Homo sapiens: one gene and its partner. The protein of the gene in region 1 interacts with the protein of each later gene in a biochemical or structural test. Each region holds a gene or a part of one and is shown on either strand. Other genes may lie near its edges.

The links.
Region 2: the proteins of TACR3 (region 1) and TAC1 form a complex in vitro, tested with the Homo sapiens proteins (one study listed by BioGRID).

What each region holds. Positions count from the first base shown.
Region 1 is NC_000004.12:103,590,852-103,598,135, reverse strand, and holds part of TACR3 (neuromedin-K receptor), read left to right. Parts: intron 1-4,703; exon of another isoform or gene 4,704-4,848; intron 4,849-6,452; coding exon 6,453-6,649; intron 6,650-6,692; exon of another isoform or gene 6,693-6,929; intron 6,930-7,284. UniProt on the Homo sapiens protein: This is a receptor for the tachykinin neuropeptide neuromedin-K (neurokinin B). It is associated with G proteins that activate a phosphatidylinositol-calcium second messenger system.
Region 2 is NC_000007.14:97,727,383-97,735,282, reverse strand, and holds the start of TAC1 (protachykinin-1 isoform beta precursor), read right to left. Parts: upstream 3,198-7,900; 5' UTR 3,088-3,197; intron 2,680-3,087; 5' UTR 2,671-2,679; coding exon 2,548-2,670; intron 1,561-2,547; coding exon 1,464-1,560; intron 1,036-1,463; coding exon 991-1,035; intron 458-990; coding exon 434-457; intron 1-433. UniProt on the Homo sapiens protein: Tachykinins are active peptides which excite neurons, evoke behavioral responses, are potent vasodilators and secretagogues, and contract (directly or indirectly) many smooth muscles.

The DNA of each region.
Region 1 (7,284 bases):
CATTAAAAAGTCAGGAAACAACAGGTGCTGGAGAGGATGTGGAGAAATAGGAACACTTTTACACTGTTGGTGGGACTGTAAACTAGTTCAACCACTGTGGAAGTCGGTGTGGCGATTCCTCAGGGATCTAGAACTAGAAATACCATTTGACCTAGCCATCCCATTACTGGGTATATCCCCAAAGGATTATAAATCATGCTGTTATAAAGACACATGCACACGTATGTTTATAGCGGCACTATTCACAATAGCAAAGACTTGGAACCAACTTAAATGTCCAAAAACAATAGACTGAATTAAGAAAATGTGGCACATATACACCATGGAATACTATGCAGCCATAAATTATGATGAGTTCATGTCCTTTGTAGGGACATGGATGAAACTGGAAACCATCATTCTCAGCAAACTATTACAAGGACAAAAAACCAAACTGCATGTTCTCACTCACAGGTGGGAATTGAACAATGAGAACACATGGACACAGGAAGGGGAACATCACACACTGGGGACTCTTGTGGGGTGGGGGGACGGGGGAGGGATAGCATTAGGAGATGTACCTAATGTAAATGACGAGTTAATGGGTGCAGCAGACCAACATGGCACATGTATACATATGTAACAAACCTGCACGTTGTGCACTTGTACCCTAAAACTTAAAGTATAATAATAATAAAATTTAAAAAAAAGGATTCTAATCAAAACAAGCAGTTTTGTTGTGTTTTGTTTTTTGTCACACCAAGCTGACCATTTTTATTCCAAGCATTTAGAAAGAATCAATCTTGTACCAACAGAGAAATGCAAACCAAAACCACAATGAGATATCATCTCACACCAGTTAGAATGGCAATCTTTAAAAAGTCAGGAAACAACAGGTGCTGGAGAGGATGTGGAGAAATAGGAACACTTTTACACTGTTGGTGGGACTGTAAACTAGTTCAACCATTGTGGAAGTCAGTGTGGCAATTCCTCAGGGAACTAGAACTAGAAATACCATTTGACCCAGCCTTCCCATTACTGGGTATATACCCAAAGGATTATAAATTATGCTGCTATAAAGACGCATGCACACATGTGTTTATTGCGGCACTATTCACAATAGCAAAGACTTGGAACCAACCCAAATGTCCAACAATGATAGACTGGATTAAGAAAATGTGGCACATATACACCATGGAATACTATGCAGCCATAAAAAATGATGAGTTCGTGTCCTTTGTAGGGACATGGATGAAGCTGGAAACCATCATTCTCAGCAAACTATCGCAAGGACAAAAAACCAAACTGCATGTTCTCACTCACAGGTGGGAATTGAACAATGAGAACACATGGACACAGGAAGGGGAACATCACACACTGGGGACTCTTGTGGGGTAGGGGGACGGGGGAGGGATAGCATTAGGAGATATACCTAATGTAAATGACGAGTTAATGGGTGCAGCAGACCAACATGGGACATGTATCCATATGTAACAAACCTGCACATTGTGCACATGTACCCTAAAACTTAAAGTATAATAATAATAAAATTTTAAAAAAAGGATTCTAATCAAAACAAGCAGTTTTGTTTTGTTTTGTTTTTTGTCACACCTAGCTGACCATTTTTATTCCAAGCATTTAGAAAGAATCAATCCTGTACCAACAGACAAATGCAAACCAAAACCACAATGAGATATCGTCTCACACCAGTTAGAATGGCAATCTTTAAAAAGTCAGGAAACAACAGGTGCTGGAGAGGATGTGGAGAAATAGGAACACTTTTACACTGTTGGTGGGACTGTAAACTAGTTCAACCATTGTGGAAGTCAGTGTGGCGATTCCTCAGGGATGTAGAACTAGAAATACCATTTGACCCAGCCATCCCATTACTGGGTATATACCCAAAGGATTATAAATTATGCTGCTATAAAGACACATGCACACGTATGTTTATTGCGGCACTATTCACAATAGCAAAGACTTGGAACCACCCCAAATGTCCAACAATGATAGACTGGATTAAGAAAACGTGACACATATACACCATGGAATACTATGCAGCCATAAAAAAGGATGAGTTCATGTCCTTTGTAGGGACATGGATGAAATTGGAAATCATCATTCTCAGTAAACTATCACAAGAACAAAAAACCAAACACCACATATTCTCACTCATAGGTGGGTATTGAACAATGAGAACATATGGACACAGGAAGGGGAACATCACACTCTGGGGACTGTTGTGGGGTGGGGGGAGGGGGGAGGGATAGCATTGGGAGATATACCTAATGCTAGATGATGAGTTAGTGGGTGCAGCACACCAGCATGGCACATGTATACATATGTAACTAACCTGCACATTGTGCACATGTACCCTAAAACTTAAAGTATAATAATAAAAATAAAATAATTAGAAGATAATATTGCCAAAATTAAAAAAAAAAGAATATGACCCCTAGAGTTTTCTAAATAGTTGTCAGCATTTTAGTTAATTTCCTAAACTAATTTTTGCTTTTACAACCCAAACCTCAAAATCATCCATCCTACACTAATTTAATGTAATGAATAAGAACAACTGTAGGCATTTCAGTTCTAATCTGTACGGTATACAAAAATCTAAGATCTTTCCCCTTTGATACATGAAGGAATGGTATCCAAAGTTCATTCTCACTAATATATGAGGACATGCAGTTCCATCCTGCCTACGTAGTTAGATTCTTAACTGCTAAAAATAGGCAATGTAACTTTGTAAGGGCTACATTACATGTCCCCACTTTCCTCCTTTATCCTGCTTGTAAGTTTCCAAGGGTAATGGGTGGCTACCCACTTAATAACATTATTAAGACACGATGAGAGATTTGAACCTTCTCTGTCCCAGATTGTCATCTTGCCTAAAAATCTCAAGAATTTCTTAAAGTTTACCACCTGATTCTTTTTTCTGTTTAACAGTTCATAGCCTGCCTGCACTAGTACCATTGTTCAGCCATGCAATACAGTGGTAACTGCTCATAGCACCTGCACATCTATCATTGCTCAAGCTTCATGCTTCAAAGAGCTCTTTTCTTTGGCATTTTATCAGGAGGGTGATTTCAGTTTTGTGATTTCAGCATTTCACAAAGCAAGACAATTTCTCCCACCCAAGAGCCTACGTTTGCATTCACATCAAAACTAGAGTCCAGAGAGTTCATCATCTGAAATAACACTACAAGATTTTGTAAGCAGAGTGCCAAGGTAACAGTATTATATAGAAATAAGTACAGAAAATATATTATAGCAGCTGTTTCACTTATAAACATTTCTGTAGAGTATTTTAAGCTTTTCTTAAAATTTTTAAAATATGTTTATAAATCTTTCGCAAGAAGTTCTAAAGGCCCTCTGTATGTGAGTTAAAAGCTATCTGAAGTCTCTGTTCCATTTTCCACATGCATTTTAATTTTTGCATGTTTTTCTGAACTTTTTGCACTATGAAAATTGAAATTTATCTAAAAGGACTGATAGCCTTAGTAGGTTTTCAGCAATTGTCGGAAAACAATTTTGTGCATAGGGAGTTTGTAGTCAGTCTGTATAAAAGATTCAAATACAATATATGTTAACATTCTCAAAGATATTTTACTTGCTCTTAACATTTGCTTAGAATGAAATCTAATGCTTTCATGTGCCCCATGAAAATAATTATATTAGGCCGGGTGCAGTGTCTCACACCTGTAATCCCAGAATTTTGGGAGGCCGAGGTGGGTGGATCTACAAGGTCAGGAGTTTGAGACAAGCCTGGCCACTATGGTAACACCCTGTCTCTACTAAAAATACAAAAATTAGCCAGGCGTGGTGGCACGCTCCTGTAATCCCAGCTACTTGGGAGGCTGAGGCAGAAGAATTACTTGAACCCGGGAGGCAGAGGTTGCAGTGAGCCAAGATCGCACCACTGCACTCCAGCCTGGGTGACAAGAGTGAGACTCTGTCTCAAAAAAAAAAAAAGGTTATTTTTGGACTCATTCTCTTTTTAAATTTGTTTGCCTTGAAAGCAGAAATAGCAGTAAATTCCATGCTTATTTTACATACACATGTCCATCTTAAATGAAAACCAAATGATACTAGTAATAACTGACTAAAATCTTAGACATTACTTAACTGTCTGCGTCTTTCAGTTTCTTTTGTTTTATAGTCACTTTCACCTGTTCATTTAAAAAATTTCTGAGTACCCTTTATGTATGAAGTCCAGTCTAGGTGCCCGAAATATACAAATGAACAAAACAAACAGAAAATCCTTGCTCTTTTGTAGTCCAGCATCAGGAGACACAAAATAAAGAAAAAACATAACAAACTGAAGAGAAAGAGCAAGCTAAGAGGTTCTGGGAGGGCTGGAAGGGCAGACTGTGATTTTAAATTAATTGGTCAGAATAGCACTCAAAGAAAAAATGACAATTGTGCAACGGCTTGAAGGAGGTGAGGTACTTAAGCCCTGGGAATCATGGTTAGAAGAGTGTTCTAGGTAGAGGGAGGAGCCAGGGAAAATAATCTATGGCTGGAGCTTAACTACCCTGTTCAAGGAATAGTAGAATGCTCACAAATTCAACAATGAAAACATCAGTAGACTAATTTCATTTAGTCTAATATCCTCTGAGCCTACAGTTAGTAGGCATGTATTGAGTCATTCTTTATTACAATAAACTAGTACATTCTCATAAATATTATTTTAAATTTTATCTGCACATGTTCATACTCACCACATTTCAATGCATGCATTTTTATTAAAATTATACATTTCCTTTTTTTCATTACATTGTAAACTTCAGGATGAGGAATTGGTCCTCAACCACTATATTTTCAATGTTATTTTCTAGACTCAAGATATTCAACAGATGTTTTTATCTGTAAATAGAGGGTAAAAAGACAAGAAAGATCTTAGTTACATGAATCACAGTGGTCAGATCTTTGGGTTTTTGCCTCAATTTCCTAATGCGCAATTGAAAGACAATTAATTAATTGTTAAATACGTAAAATATTGCATAAATGTAAATTAAATCATTTGTTTTTCACAAATATATGAATTATGAATAGGAAATCTGAGAAATAAAATGCAGAAATACAAAAGCAGTTCTTCAGAAGAAAGCAATGTAATTTAAAGAACACTGGGAAAATCAAAAGATATTATGTGATGTGGCCAGTGATGACATTTTGTGAGCTGTTGACCTGGATTTTCAACTCTGATGGCCAATTTCCATCTGCTCAATGCTGGCCACCTGGATGGTACAGTGATTTGGCCCTTAGGGAAGAGTTACCTTCCACATTGATCCATTTCATGCTTTGCCTATTTCTAAAATCATGTCTCTCCTGACTAAACCTTGCCAACCTTCATCTGAATCCCTAATTTGCAGTCAAATGACAAGTCCATTTCATAAATACTGTATCTTCCTAGTTCTGAGGTGCCTCATAGGCCCTTTACATCAGAGCTTTCCCTGATTTGTTTTAATCTGACTGCAGGTAAGCTTCAAAATTGTTTAGCTTAAAGTATCTTATTTTAAACTTTTTACTATTTCCAAATTCCCAAAAGAGATATGAACATTGTTCATTGTACATTGCTATTTATTATTCATTCATCCTATATATATTTATCTCCAGCTATATATCAAGGACTGTGATAGATGCTGGGAGTAAAAAGATAATTAAGACATTCTGTCTTCAGGAATTTTAGGCCTAGTGGAAGAGAAATAACAGCTGACATTCTACTTTGATTAGAGCTGTCCAGGATATTATCATTCACAAGTATACAATCAAAGGAAATGGCTTATGCTTACCAAAGTCATAAAAGCTAATGCATAAAACAGTTGCATAAACCAATAATCTATTTGCAAATCTCAAGTTAGTATTTTCCTCACACTAACGTGAATATTTACACATAATCACTATTTGGGGAAATCTTCCCCAATATCAGATTATAAGAGAAACCAAATTAATATTCATAAGGTTACGTAGTGAGCAGGCTATTAAAGAAATCTAAATAGTCTTAAGCTATAGTCAGGCTATAGAAGAGTACTGACTTGAACAAACCCAGCCCTAGCAGCCTAGTAAACCTCCATAGTGACTTAACAGTTGATTTCCTGGAGATAATATCTCCACTATCGTACAATGCAGGCTACACAGCCACATCCTAGTTCCTATCTCTCTCTGTTCCAGGCTCTCTGGGTTTTTGTAAACACTGATTTTCTTCAGGCCAATCAAAATATATTTGTCCGTGTTTGAGTTAGCACTACCCATTCACTTAGATAGGTAGAAATGAATAGTGACATAGCATAATTTCTTGAGACTTACCTTAGGCAACTGTCCGTATATTGCTTCACCATTTTTTAATATATTGACTATTCCCTAGGCATGATGTGTATTTAACTGTATTGGCAGAAAAGCATGATTTGCAATAAGCTATTGGAACTATTATGAGTATTATATTTGTCAAAAATGACTTTTTTTCTTTATAGGTTGTCAAAATGATGATTATTGTTGTCATGACATTTGCTATCTGCTGGCTGCCCTATCATATTTACTTCATTCTCACTGCAATCTATCAACAACTAAATAGATGGAAATACATCCAGCAGGTCTACCTGGCTAGCTTTTGGCTGGCAATGAGCTCAACCATGTACAATCCCATCATCTACTGCTGTCTGAATAAAAGGTAAAAACAAAACTACGAAATGCAAGTTGCTTGTCACACCCACCTTCACTGGAAACATACAATGTTGTTCCATTTTCTTGGTTCAAATTCAAAATGCAGAAGGAAGGGAAAATTTAAGAATTCACTGAGAGAGGCACAGGCTTTATCTTTCAAGACCCCCATACACACTTTATAAAGCATCCCACATTAATAATTAGATGCCCCAAATAATGATCTTGGGGTTCTAACTGGATGATTCTTCTATGGGCCAACTTCTTCCTCCAAAATCTCAGAATTTTACCTGCCAAAGAAAAAGAAGTGCCCTCATGATTAAAGGAGAATTGAAAATATGCTCAAATCCTCAATGAAATGAAGTTACTTCCTAGAAATTCTTGAATAATTTCTATAAGATGGAGAGATGATGGCATATGTGAGCGGACTTTATTAAAAAGGATATGTTGTAAATAAATAAACTTTGAAGTAGAAGGTTTTGTAAAAACAATGGGAACTCCAATCCTCCTTCCTGCATTGTGAGGTGGGGTGAGTAAGAGAGCATGCAGCCTCTATGGAGATGGCTTGTGAAGAAATCACAGTGGTCAAGGGAAAGATGTTTATAAAGTTAAAAAATGAAAAGTGAGAATATTTGTAGTCAAATG
Region 2 (7,900 bases), on another chromosome or scaffold:
CTAATAAATGACATCATTATTGGACCAAGCATACTAAAATGAGTTAGGAGATGCCTATAAATGCTTGTGGGGGTTTCGTGTTTGTTTGTTTGTTTGTTTACAGTGAAAGTAAGCTTAGGGGGTGGGTGGCTGGGAAGAAATATGTATGGTAGATTTCTAATCCTAGGATTGAAATTCTTCTCTAAAACTAACAATTGAAGGGACTTAAAAGACATTTTTTTCTTTTTTAATATAATGCATCTCTTTGCTAAGTACAATATGTCTAAACAACCATATTCTGGATGTAATATGAATCTCCCCCATTCTTATATTGTCTTCATTAAACATATTAAGCCCTAGAGTCATGACAGAAAATAAGGTAAGATAAATAAAGTGAAATTCAATATAATTTTACATTTAAATTTGATAAATGTCAAAATAATTTTGAACTTACTTTTGTGAGAGATCTGGCCATGTCCTAGAAGAAAGATAAAATTAGCAAACACATATAGATTTGTTTTTAAAGATGCTACATTATATCTTTTATAAAATAATTTGATTCTCAAAATATGTAACATTTTCTATCTATATATTATCCTGAGGAATAAAGCAGAACCATAAATGCTAAACAAATTATTAATCATAAAAACTAAATATTTAAACAAACAAATGGAATTTTTATTAAGTGCCTTCTATGGGATTCAAACCTAGGACTATGAGACTTCTGAGGCCTCTTATTAACTATAAGACTGTAACACATCCCACCTTCAAGGCTGGCCACCCACTGAGAGAGAGAGAGAAAGAGAGAGAGAGAGACTGAGAGAGAGTGACAGAGAGAGAGAGACAGAGAGAGTGACAGAGAGAGAGAGAAACCGAGAGAGAGTGCGCAAATCCATCTCTTTATTAAACAGGCATGACCCAGATCTTGTATTTCAGCCCATAAAAGATTTTATTTCACTTTCCTACATGTGCTTTCACAATAGTAAAATAAAGATTTATAGGAATGTTTACCATAAAGAGCCTTTAACAGGGCCACTTGTTTTTCAATTGAGGAATCTGACAAGAGACGAATTGTCATTAACTACATGTTCCACTGACCGTGCGATGAATTCAAGGAAACGATATTTCTATCCCAAGACAAATGTACTCTCACCTCAGGGAATGCTATAAAATCCTCTTCCACATGCACTTGGATCATCCGCAGTACTACCCCTGGAGGCCCGTGCCTTCCCTTTGTCAGTTTGGATCTTTAGTCAAGGGAGCGCTTCACTCGAATACAGTGAGGCATGCGAACCAGATCTTTCCCTCCCCCCGCGGGCCCGTGCGTGCCTTAGTGCGGTGTGGGCCAATGTCGCGCCTGGGGAATTACACCCCTCTTGGAGTGGAAATCTCTATTCAGAGCGAGAGACCCTGGGGTACTCCAGGAAGGAGTGAGCAGACAGGGCGGGCTGCCCAAGACACCTAGGGACGGTCGCCTATCTCACCAGCATCCCGTTTGCCCATTAATCCAAAGAACTGCTGAGGCTTGGGTCTCCGGGCGATTCTCTGCAGAAGATGCTCAAAGGGCTCCGGCAGTTCCTCCTGGGAGACAAAAGCACGGACAAAGGGCGTGTAAGGCAACCAGAGCGAGGCACCCAGCAACCCGAGCCCTTCCCCCCGCTGTACTCCGGCCCCGAGGCGTGGGGAGGCGGCCTTCCCCACGCTCGGGCTGAGCGGGGTCCCTCCCGAGGCGCTGCCTCTCTGCGCCCCTCCCCGCCGAACTCGCGTCCCGCCCCCCGCAAGCCTGCCAGGGCGAGTTAGCAGCTGGCTCGGCGTCTTCAAGCTTCGAGCGCTTTCCGCTCTTTCCTCCCAGCCCGGGGACCTTCCCTCATCTGCTGCGCCGCCACCTGACTTTGTCTTGTCTCGGTGCCGGCTTTGTAGAGTCCTCACCGCCCTAAATGCACACAGGTGTGTGGGATCTGGGGCTGGGGCTCCGGTGGGGAAGGGTGACAACGCTTTACAGACGACTTTCACCGTTTTTCCGAGGCGCGCTCCCCAGCGCCTGTAGCCTACGAGTTTCTAAAGGGAGACTTCAAGCTACATCCTCAGGTCCGCAAAACAAACGTGAAGGCAGGAAATTAACTTCCCTCCAGCCTCCGGCCCTCCAATCCCCCTGCAGCTCGCGCGTGTGCCCGCTGCTGCCCGCGACCCAGGCGCCCTCCTCTGCCCGTGCCCAGACGCTAGGGCAGTGCAGCTGGACCGGAGCCCCCGAAATCCCAGGTCCTGGGGGATGAAATCTTACGAGATTTCCCGCCTTGTGAGGATCTCGGGCTCATCCGGGAGGGCATCCCTACTGCAGGGAGTTCCTGGGCCGGACGGTGCAGCCCTCGGGAAGAAACTTGAATCGTGGGCACAAAATCCCGTGGGGAACCCGGGAAATAGTGCCCCTTTCCATCCTCTCGCACGCAACCGCTGCCTCTTTCCGTGGTGGCGGTGCGTGCCACGTTAACTAGGGTGCTGTTGCGTGGGAAGGTGACAGCTCCCGAGCCCAGGAAGAAGGGTGCGGGCCGTCCTGGGAAGGGGCCTCACCTTGATCTGGTCGCTGTCGTACCAGTCGGACCAGTAATTCAGATCATCATTGGCTCCTATTTCTTCTGCAAACAGCTGAGTGGAGACAAGAAAAAAGACTGCCAAGGCCACGAGGATTTTCATGTTGGATTTCTGGGAAGGGGTAGGAGGAGAAGACACCAAAGAGAGAAATAATGTATCTATTAGGGGTGGTTATCCAAGAGTTAAAGCAACAGAATTTTCTGCCCCACAACGGATGAACCAAGATCAAAAACATAAGGACTGAAGTCTCACCTGTACCGGTTAGGCGAGAGAATCGCGTCCCAAAGATTCTCCAACCCTCTTCTCCCTGAATCCCAACTCCCCCAGCCCCCTAACCCACCAACCCACACCTTCAAACCAGGAAACTCTGCAGGTGGAAGACAAAGAGGGGCGTTGGCGTTTGGGAAGCCAGTCTCCCCACTGTCCCTCGCCGCAGCGGCGCCCCCAGCGCGGCCACCTCGGACAGATGCGGGGCGGGGTGACCCGGGCAGCCGCGGCCAGCACCGCGCGGGCACTTACTGCGACGGACAGTCCCGCGGGGTGCTGAGTTTCTCTGGTTCCTCCGAGCGCACGCTGGTCGCTCCGCACTCTCGGTAGCTGCCGCCGGGAAGGAGGTCCGAGCGCGCTCTTTCGCCTGCTCAGTGCCTTGCGGTATTTATCCCAGCCTCCTTGAGCCTCCAGACCCACGTGACATTCTCCCCACGCGACTTTCTGCTCAATATTTAATTAGCCGCCTCCTCTCCTTTCGCTTGCGTGATTGAGAGTTTCCGAGACGGTAACTCGTCGATGCCCATAACATCTGGACCCAATTGGGTTCTAAATGACGCAATTTTAGGAAAATCGAGGTCTCGCCATCCAATCCGGAGCGGCCTGCTTCCGTCTGCAGATCTGACGCCCCCTCCCCTCTCCTTCGAAACTGGGTTTCATGACACCTGATATTACTCATCAAATTTGAGCAAAGTGACTCATTCCTTGGACTTCGGTAACTTTTCCGTCCCTCGAGACGTCAGGATAAGTTGCACTTTTCAGGATGGCCAAATAACTGTAGGCATTCAGACATTTCGTCGGAAATCAGGCTAAAAAAAGAGGACTACACTTGAGGGGAGATGCGGGGAAGCATTATTTTCCCTTCTATTTCTAGCTTAATAGTATTTAAGTGTTTCTGAGACACAGCATCGTTCTATAACCAGAACATCCCTCTTCTAAATCAACGCGAATACTGGCTTTTCCTTAGCATAACAAAAGGATGTTTAGTCCCATAGTATTTTAGAAGATGGAAGCAGATTTATTTTACATTTTGGAGAAAGGGGAATTTAAACATGACATTGTGTGTCAGACTTAGGATTTCTTTTGTTTCAAGCCGGGTAACTCCTCTTCCTTGCCACATCCAGGAGCAGGGGTTGAACAGGACGTTTTTTGCTTCTCTCCTACACTTTCTTGCTGAAGACTAGGAAACCAGCAACATAGTGTGTAGGATCCTCACCCTTGTCACTAAAGGGCTCTATAAATCATGTTTCTCCTTTCTATGAAAGTAAGTGTAGTGAAGATGCTAATGGGACAGTCATTAACAGCACAAAATATTAGACAAATAGCATTTGTACAGAAACCACACCTTTCCATGAGCCCTTGGTTGCCTGGCAGACACATTTCTTTGATCTCCAAATGAATTAAAAGATGTGACATCTTTGGTGGAGTAGTTTTCTCCCCTTTACATATGAAGTATTATATTTTTCAATTAATTATGATTTTTTAGTATATTGCATAAAAGAAATAAATTTTTGCAACTCAAACCAGAAGTATTTTTTTCTCTATGTTGTTCTTAAATAATCCTGAATTTGGAAATTCTCATGCATCTCTGATTTCTTTTGGCCTTAGCCTCACAATGTGAGCATTTTATTTTCCGTTTTCAGAACTTTTATATGGAAAATTATAAGCATATCCAAAAGTAGAGAGAAACATCCACTTCCAAGTTTCATCTACAACCCTTCCAGTTTCCTCTGCACTGAGATTATTTTGAAAAAAATCCCAGACAGTTAATCATTTCAACTGTAAATATTTCAGCATGTCTGTATAAAGGTAGGAATTAAAAAAAATAAAAACATATCCACGCCATTATCCCACCTAAAACAACATAAAATAATTCCTTACATTAAATATCCAGTTAGCATTCAAATATTTCTCATTGCTTCCTAATTCCGGCCCACACAGTTTACTACTTGAAATCAGAATTATAATGAAGTCCATACATTACAATTGGTTTTGTTAGTTCAGGCTGCTGTAAGAAAGTACCATGGTCTGGGTGACGTAAACAACAGAAATTTATTTCTCACAGTTTCGAAGGTTGGAAGTCTGAGATCGTGGTGTCAGCATGGTCTGGTTGTGTTTAAGGCCCTCTTCCAGGTTACAGACTGTCATATTGTCTCCTTGTTATATCCTCACATGGCAGGAAAGAATGAGAGAGCTCTTCAAAGTCCCTTTTATCGGGGCACTGATCTCATTCATAAGAGCTGCACCATCATGATCTAATTATCTTCCAAAGACCCCACTTCCTAATACCATAACCTTAGGGGTTACGATTTCAACACATGCATTTTGGAGGGACACGAACATTCCTTCTACTGCATGTTTCTTAAATCTCCCTGAATCTGTAATTCGCTCTCTCTTTCTCTCTCTATTGTAGTTTATTGATAAGACAGGTCAGGAGAGTGTACCGCATTCTGGACTTTGCTGATTGCCTTTTAACTTGTTTCTCTGTTTCGATTATTTCCTGTTAATTGGTAGTTGTATCTAGAAGTTTGATCCTCTGTACATTTTTTTCTTTTTCCTTTTCTTTTTCTTTTTTTTTTTTTTTGATGAGACTACTTCACATGTGTTGTGTTGTTCTGGTAGGAAGCACATGATATGTGGTTGTTTCTCCTTTTGAGTTGTTAGCAGCCATTGACTATCATTTTCTAGATCTATTAATTCATTAGTATTTTCAAAACAGTGCTATGTTGATTTTATCATTCATTATTTGTCTGGTAGGCAGACTTGTTTCTTTCATGTTTCTCAGCAACTAGTTATTCTAAAGCATTATTAATATAGGAAAGATGGGATAAATGCTTGATTATGTCTCTCTACCAATTTTGAAAATAATGAATTGGTAAATTAACACCTTTTAATAAGACCCACTTTAAAAAATTAGGATTATTATGACTTCCTGGATTTAAACACATTTGACATACAGTCATCACTCAGTATGCATAGGGGATTGGCTGTAGGACCTCCTGTAGGTATCAAAACCTGTGGATGCTCAAGTCCCTGATGCAAAATGGTGTGGTATTTGAATATAACCTATGCACATCGTCTCATATATTTTAAATAATCTCTAGATTACTTATGATACTTAATATAATATAAAGGCAGTGTAAATAGTTGTTATACTGTATTATGTGGGGAATAACACAAAGGGAAAAAGTCTGTATGTGTTTAGCACGGATGCATTTTTTTCTAAATATTTATGACCTATGTTTGGTTAAATCTATAGATGCAGAACCCATGGATACAGGGGGCCAACTATATTTCAATCCATGGCAGGCATTCTTCTAATTGAAGTTCAGACCTATTCTTGGCCTGCAGGTGACTCTTCAAAGTGACTCCTGAGACTTTATGCCAATAGGCTTTGATGGCTTTTTCTTGTTTTTGGTATGACAAAATGTTTCGGGTCAAAGTTATATACGTTTTGCTTCTGACCCGAAATCTGCCTTTAAGGGGCCCTAATTTTAGAATTGAAAATGACCATTAGAGATCATAAACTGGGCTTTATTTTTACACGTTGTTAGTGAGTTCTTCATTGCTTCAAGACCTTTTCAGCAGACAGAGCTGAGAACAATGTGTGTGTGTGTGTCTCTCTGTGTGTGTGTGTGTGTGTGTATCTATAATCATGAATGTATACCGACTTTCTTTTCAAATCAGGATCTCATAGAGTTTTTAATTAACCTTTTGCATCTCTTTTTCCATACTCCAAATGACATCAACATGATTATTCATTAGCTTTATCCCAATACATGGTGCCAATATGATCAACAATATCATTACTGGAAACAGATTAAGAGTTTTTGTTTGCAGTTTTGTTCTTTTTTAATCTTTAGAGCATATCACACCAGGTATGTTCGGTCATATTACTGTGTTATAAAGTCTCTTTACAAGTTCTTTGTATGGTTATGCTACCAACTCTTACACAGGTAGATTCATTTTCTCATTCTGCTCAAGTTATAGGGATCATTTTTTAAAAGTAAGTTTAGAATTATGTAAAATACATGGTTCTAAACTCAAATATTAAAAACATTATGTGGCCGGGCGTGATGGCTCACGCTTGTAATCCCAGCACTTTGGGAGGCCGGGGTGGGTGGATCACAAGGTGATGAGTTTGAGACCAGCCTGGCCAATACAGTGAAACCCCGTGTCTACTAAAAATACAAAAATTAGCTGGGCGTGATGGCGGGCGCCTGTAATCCCAGCTACTTGGGAGGCTGAGGCAGGTTAATTGCTTGAACGCGAGAGGTGGAGTTTGCAGCGAGCCAAGATGCCACTGCACTCAGCCTGGGCAACAGAGCTAGAATCTGTCTCAAAAACAAACAAACAAACAAAAAACATTATGTATTGAAAGAAGTGTACCTTCAGTCCCTATCTCTCTGCTCTCTTATGTCTAGTAACCATTTCTTTTTAGGTTTTTGGTTTAGGCTTATATTGCTATTGTTGTTATTTTAATATAAGAAACGATGTGATAATTTCCCCCTAAATCTTGTAAAATTCTATACCTGAAGTGGGACATTTTAGAAATTTTTTTAATTTCTCAGATACTAATGTGGTTTATGGTTTATGAGGTAACAAGACAGCTACTTTATAATATCTAAACTGCTAGTTCTGTATAACCAGTTGTATAATTTTATTCAGATGCTGTATGTTGTAAATGTGCCATAGTACATAAAATAGAGGTTATTTCACAGAATTGAGTAGTAAACAATAATGAGATAAAAGGTATATCCAAGAATACATTTCCCACATTCCCCACATCATTCATTAATTGCTAACTTAGGGATCCTACTAAGACATGCACGTTTTGCACACTTTCCCTTTGAACATTGTAGAGGTTGAGATATTTGCATTCTTTATTACCTGTTTTATTTCCTAGGATAAGTTTATGAAAAAATACATATTAATAAAGTACATATGTTTAATGCATGCTAAATTCATGATTAGTAGACTGGTGAACAAGTAATTCATTAATACCTCATTTTTTATGTTGCAAATTAAATTTGCAACATAAATTAAAAACCCGGACAAAAGTAAA